Linked DNA regions of Homo sapiens: region 1 is reported to be linked to region 2. Evidence: microRNA targets listed by miRTarBase, many of them from high-throughput screens and not tested one by one. Region 2 holds a microRNA gene; the other region holds the end of a gene's coding sequence.
What was found. Region 2 holds the annotated microRNA hsa-miR-512-5p (CACUCAGCCUUGAGGGCACUUUC, at 1,467-1,489, shown strand). A microRNA usually pairs through its seed, bases 2 to 8, with sites in the 3' UTR of a target mRNA and lowers its output. Matches are read on the target gene's strand: a 7mer-m8 pairs with bases 2 to 8, a 7mer-A1 pairs with bases 2 to 7 and ends in A, and an 8mer does both.

Region 1 (3,412 bases), not on the chromosome of region 2:
CCTGCTCTGAGAGCCAGATAAAATACATTGTACATGCCTCTCAAATATTTGAAGGTAGCTATTACTCCTTAGTCACATCTTTCAGCTGGTTTGGGAGTTTCAGTTTACGGTACCTTTTCCAACTTGGCAAATACCTCAGGATTTGCTCTAATTTGTAAATATCCTTTCACTGCATCCTGGAATAACATTAGTAATGTAAATGTGGTTTGAACAGCACTTTGTGTATCATTTTCCCATGATGTATTTTTCACCACTCTAAAATTAGATCAGTTTCTACACAACTGACTTACACGTTATTTCCAGCAAGCGAAAATCTCCAGATTTTTTCATCTATACTCTTGACAAGTGCTGTTTCCTTTTTCTATCAATGGCCTATTTGTTTCTAGGATAAAGACTAGGGTTCACCATGCCATCTGTAATTGTGTTCCTAATTAGCAGCCTCATGCATAGGCCAAACTTTCTTTTTTTTTTTTTTTTTTTTTTTTGAGACAGAGTCTCGCTCTGTCACCCAGGCTGGAGTGCAGTGGTGCGATCTCGGCTCACTGCAACCTCCACCTCCCGGGTTCAAGTGATTCTCCTGCCTCAGCCTCCCAAGTAGCTGGGACTACAGGCGCGTGCCACCACGCCCAGCTAACTTTTTGTGTTTTTAGTAGAGACAGGGTTTCACCGTGTTAGCCAGGATGGTCTCGATCTCCTGACCTCGTGATCCACCTGCCTCAGCCTCCCAAAGTACTGGGATTACAGACATGAGCCACCGCCCCTGGCCCAGTCTTCATATTTAACTGCACCTTCCTTCCTCTAGGCTTCCATATATTATTCATTCCCCTCAGCTAGGAATGCTTCCCCTGGGTCACCCAGGTCTACCCAATTCTTAGTTATCCTTCAAAACTTAGCTGAAATACCACTTCTCTGGGGGACTCTTCCTTGCCCTGCTCCCTATGTTCCCCTCCCAAAAGTACCTTTTACCTGTTACAATACCTTACAAATCTCCTTCAGCCCTTATCAAAATAGTAATATTTGTGCAATGAGGTGCCTGTCTCCTTAGCTATACCATGAAATCTATGAGGACACAGTCTGTCTTTACCTAGCACAGGTTTTTGCATGATTTATACATTCAGTAACTGTCTGTTGAATGAACGAACACTGAATGAATAGGATCAATATTTAGATTTCCCCAGGTAATCAAAGAAAACATTTAGCTAAGCCCTGGGTTGTATGCTGTACAAAGAAGAAACTGTATAGGTTACAAGACAATCTTGAGAAAGAAAGACCTCTCCAAAAAAGTGATGATATAATTTTAAAAATTTTCAAACTATGTCCTATAAAAACGAAGGGTAATTTTTTTTCACTCTTTCTAGTGTGGGGGTGGGGAGCATGGAAAAAGGCAAATAAGCACAGGTCAGTGGTATATTTGTTGTTTTACTGTTAATTTGACACATCTGAACCAAAGCATTCACAATACTTGATATACTTTGAAGAGAGTCATATACTATAGTCTTAAACATAACCACGGAACGAGCAGAACAATTAAAACTACATAAGGCCTTAAAATATATCCACAGTGTGTATTATTTCCATATTCATTCATTTACAAATTAGACTACATACCATTAATTTTATTTTTATTTTTCATTGTTTTATTCAGACAGGGTTCATTCAAGGAAAGGCAACTTAGTTTTTGTATGTGTGAGCTTTATTTTTTTACTATATTGGTTAATATAAAAGTTATGAATTAAACGTATTCTTATCTCCTATACCCAGGAGTGAATCCATGAAATTCTCAGATAGTAATCCAAAACAATAGGTCCTATTTTTAAAAATAGCTAAAGTGGGCCAGGCGCAGTGGCTCATGCCTGTAATTCCGACACTTTGGGAGGCCAAGGGCAGATCATGAGGTCAGGAGTTCAAGACCAGCCTGATCAACATGGCAAAACCCTGTCTCTACTAAAAATACAAAAATTAGCCAGGCGTGGTGGCAAGCATCTGTAATACCAGCTACTCAGGAGGCTGAGGCAGGAGAATCACTTGATCCCGGGAGGCAGAGGTTGCAGTGAATCAAGATCGCGCCACTGCACTCCAGCCTCAGTGACACAGCAAGACTCCATCTCAAAAAATGAAAAAAATAGCCAAAGTGAAAAGGGATCTGATAGCCAGTCTGTTAGTGGTCTTTAAGATCAACTCATGGACTTTCGGGATTTCATACAATGAAGACTACTGCAATTCTATGAAGACTATGAGATCAGTCAAAATTTAAAACATCGTATACAAAATCATTCTTGAAATCTCTAAATGCCTTTTAAGTAACCAGCATGAAAATTTTAAGTACTTGCCTCACAGTACCAAACTTAGAAGTCAAAACTAGTTAAAATTCAGTGCTATCATGACTTCTCATTTACAAGGTAACTCATTGGTAAATTAATAGATGGCATAAAAATTAAGATTTACATCTTTTTTAAAGGATAAATGTATGTAATCAGAGTATACAGAAAATTCAATGTATTTTACAATAAAATAACTTTAAACCTCTATCCCTGTACAACAGGGTTTAGGTTAATTCTAGTGAACTTGCATGGTTTTAAATCTCTTTTACAGTTCATTCCATTATGAGTACTTAAATTGCTTTAGATACATAGCTTTTTTCAAAATATTACAGTTGTATTCCAGGATAAGATTTAATATATTGAGATGTTTTAAAAATATTTATAAATTTGTTTCTAGTATGCAAAAGCATTTGGCAATACTTTTACAGCATTTGATTTTATAGAATTAAAATCTCATACAGTACTCATCTTGATGTTAAAAAAAAATTCACAGAAAAAATATAAATTACACAGCCTGACTGCACGGTACTGTTATTTCCAGTTTTTAGTTCTGGTAATTAAAACCTTCATTAAGTCTGTTAACAAATCATTACCTGTACATTTATGAAGGCAACTGACATGATTTGCAAACAAAACCTTCAGGTTTTATGTTATTTACCAAAGAGTGCAGTTCAGCAAGAAAGGAAAACCCAGTAGCAAATTTACAGAATATTTTACAAATTTACCAGTTCCTGTGACACAAACTGTTTCAACCTTTCAAGATACTGTCCATAAAGTTCCACATCATTGTGACCTGCTCCTTCAACCCAGAGAGGCTCCACAGGTCTTTGGCAACGTTCAAACAATGCGAGGCCATGTGAAAAGTCAATGACTTCATCTTCAGTCCCATGAATTATTAATACTGGAGAGGTTATCTTAGAGATTTTGTCAATGCTGCAGGGAAAAAGGAAGGGGGAAAAATGCAATAAATTAACTATGTAAAGGAACATATTCTTGTGCTATATCAGACAGATAATTCAAATATGAGAATTGTATGAATCAGTTCAGAAGGTAAGAATGTCTCCTGAATTTCCAGTAAGATTCAAAAATTG
Region 2 (3,412 bases):
TCACTGCAACCTCTGCCTCCCGGATTCAAGCAATTCTCCTGCCTCAGCCTCCCGAGTAGCTGGGATTACAGGCATGCACCACCATGCCCAGTTGATTGTTTTTGTATTTTTAGTAGAGGTGGGGTTTCACCATGTTGGCCAGGTCTCAGACTCCAAGCCTCGAGTCATCCGCCCTCTTCAGCCTCCCAAAGTGCTGGGTTTACAGGTGTGAGCCACCATTCCTGGACCGCATTATTGATTTTTTAAAATTTTTGGATTTTGTTCAATTAGTGATTGAGTCTCACTGTGTTGCCCAGATGGGCTTGTCTCCCAGGCTGGAGTGCAGTGGTGAGATCGTGACTCACAGTAGCCTCAACCTCCCTCACCCCAGCGTCCCGTGTAGTTGGGATGGCAGGCATACAGGACCATGCTTAGCTAATTTTTTTTTTTTTTTGTAGGGTTGGGGTCTCCCACCATTGTCTAGGCTGGTCATCAACACCTGGGCACAAACATCCTCTCACCCCGGCCTCTGAGCCACTGCACCCAGTAGGTTTTAGGTTCATTTTATTTTTTATTTAGGTGTCCACAAAGGCAGCTTTTTCCTTTTCTTTATTTTTTAAAGAGACAGGGTCTCACTCTGTTGCCCAGGGTGGAGTGCAGTGGCCAGATCTTGGCTCTCTGCAACCTCTGCCTTCCAGACTCAAGTGATCCACCTTCGTCTCCAGAGTAGCTGGGACTATAGGTGTGCACAAACACACCCAGCTGAGTTTTAAATCTTTTGTAGAGAAGGGGGCCTCAGTATGTTTCCCAGGCTGGTTTTGAAGTCCTGTGCTCAAGCAATCCTTCTGCCTTGGCTTCCCAAACTGCTAGGATTACAGGTGAGCCACCACACCGGGCCTGTCCACGTAATTTAAAAGGTGCTGGACGTGTGCGGTGGCTCACGTCTGTAATCCCAGCACTTTGGGAGGCTGAGGTGGGCGGATCACGAGGTCAGGAGTTCGAGACCAGCCTGGCCAATATGGTGAAACCCTGTCTCTACTAAAAATACAAAAATTAGCCAGGTGTGGTGGCAGGCGCCTGTAATCCCAGCTTCTCAGGAGGCTGAGGCAGGAGAATTGCTTGAACCCAGGAGGCGGAGGCTGCAGTGAGCTGATGATCGCTCCATGGCACTCCAGCCTGGGCAACAGAGCAAGACTAAGAAAAAAAAAGAAAGAAAAAGAAAAAGAAAACAAAGTAATGTAAAAGGTGTTATTCAGGCTGGGGACCCCCAAAGTGCTGGGATTACAGGCATGAGCCCCAGGGCAGGCCTAGGATTTGCATTACAAGGCTCTGCATTGTTCCTGAGAACTGGAGAGAGTGCTCAATCTACCTTTCGCTATTGAGCAACATTCAGAAGTCAGTTTTAAATCTCTTATCTTCTGCATAGAGGATGTGCCTGCAGTTTCCAGGTACTGGACAATACAGGGAGGGTACTTCTCAGTCTGTGGCACTCAGCCTTGAGGGCACTTTCTGGTGCCAGAATGAAAGTGCTGTCATAGCTGAGGTCCAATGACTGAGGCGAGCACCGAAGAAACACCATGGGGGGGAGGGGGGGCGGGGGGCTCCAGGAGCCACTGCAGGTAAAAGCTAAACCGTGGTGCTTGTTCTGCGCCATAAACTGGACTTCAGCCCAGCTTTAAGGAAATGACCACGGTCTCTGGGTTGTGAGGCTGGGTTCCGTAGCAGCTATAATGCTTGGATTCAGGGATAGCCTGGGTCACACCATTGCCAGAGAAGAGGCAACCAATCCAGACCCCAAAAGCGGGTTCTTGGATCTCTTGCTGGAAAGAATTTCGAGGCAAGTCACAACACAGCGAAAGAAGCAAGCTGAGGCCTGGGCTCAATCCTCCTGCTTCGTCCTCCCAAAGTGCTGGGATTACACGCATGATCCCCTGTGCCCTGCCAATATTTGGTAATTATAACTGGTGGTCAGCTTACAATGTGGCTATTTCCAGACCATAAGTACCAACTCTATAGGTGCCTTGTGAGTGAGTGCCTTGCTACTTCAAGCAGTTACTTTCGTGTGTTATTAAACCAGAGGCCTGCTAAGCCTCTGTGCCTAGTAAAGATTACAATTTGGAATGTCAGCCCCCAGCTGTCCTGTGTGATTGGCAGGTTAGGTCCTTGTTGAACCAGAAGCAACTGGCCAGTCGTACAGATGCAACTTTCGGACCAGTAGAAAATTTCTATGTCAACCTGGAGACATAGGGATTGTACCTTTCTGATACCCTATTAGTAAATAAATAGTATTTATTTATAAATTATGTATAATAGTATTTATCTGAATATATCCCAAGCAGCCCAAGTGTGTTCCAGACATAACATTTTTATTTACATTTAAATATCACTAAGATTAGAGATACACATCTAACTCAGGTTTTCAACTAGTCTTACCATTGAAAGAACTATTGTGGCAGGACGCAGTGGCGCACGCCTATTATCCTAGCACTTTGGGAGGCCGAGGAGGGCGGATCACAAGGCCAGGAGTTCGAGACCAGCCTGGCCAGCATGGTGAAACCCCATCTCTACTAAAAATACAAAAAAATTAGCTGGGCATGATGGCACAGGCTTGCAGTCCCAGCTACTCGGTAGGCTGAGGCAGGAGAACTGCTTGAACCCGGCAGACGGAGGTTGCAGTGAGCCGAGATCGCGCCACCGAACTCCAGTCTGGGCAACAGAGCAAGACGCTTGTCTTAAAAAAGAGAGAGAAAGAACTACTTGTTCTCTGTAAGCCATGCTGGTTTAGCCAAAATGCTGCAGTTGTGTATGGCCAGGGACGTTGAGGCTGCAGTGAGCCGACGGCTGTGTTGCCGCTCTGCAGTCTGGGGGACAGAGCAAGAACCTGTCTCAAAAAAACAAGAAGTTAGTGAGACAGACATGCCGTTCTGTTACTTTTCCCCTTGCTGGTTCAAAGCTAGGTAGTTGCCAATTAAATGTAATCTTGTAGAGCAAAAATGTTTTTCATTTTTTGAGACAGGATCTCACTCTATTGCCCAGCCTGGAGTGCAGTTGTGGGAACTCACAGCAACCTCCACCTCCTGGGTTTAGGCAGTTCTTCTGCATCAGTCTCCCGAGTAGCTGAGACTACACCGGTGCCCAGAGGGCAGTGGCCAGATCTTGGCTCTCTGCAACCTCTGCCTTCCAGATTCAAGTGAGCCACCTCCGCCTCCTGAGTAGCTGGGACTATAAGTACGTACCACCATACCCAGTTAATTTTTGCATTTTTTGTAGATAAGGGGGCTAAGTATGTTTCCCAGGCTGGTTTCGAAGTCCTGTGCTCAAGCAATCCTTCTGCCTTGGCTTCCCAAACTGCTAGGATTACAGGTGAGCCACCACACCGGGCCTGTCCACGTAATTTAAAAGGTGCTGGACGTGTGCGGTGGCTCACGTCTGT

Region 1: miRTarBase lists ABHD17B as a target of hsa-miR-512-5p. Seed matches in the 3' UTR shown: 7mer-A1 at 1,997-2,003.

What each region holds. Positions count from the first base shown.
Region 1 is chr9:71,863,753-71,867,164 of GRCh38, forward strand. ABHD17B (abhydrolase domain containing 17B, depalmitoylase) reads right to left here. Exons shown (of 4, transcript NM_001025780.3): 4 at 1,400-3,254. The coding sequence ends at 3,035. Among named protein-coding and RNA genes, the nearest start is that of ABHD17B, 46 kb to the right of the region's middle.
Region 2 is chr19:53,665,226-53,668,637 of GRCh38, forward strand. It overlaps MIR512-1 (microRNA 512-1), which reads left to right and starts at 1,454; the gene lies at 1,454-1,537. All of the region lies in intron 2 of LOC107985342 (a long non-coding RNA gene), which reads left to right. RefSeq lists enhancers at 1-377, 378-1,265, 1,266-2,154, 3,043-3,412.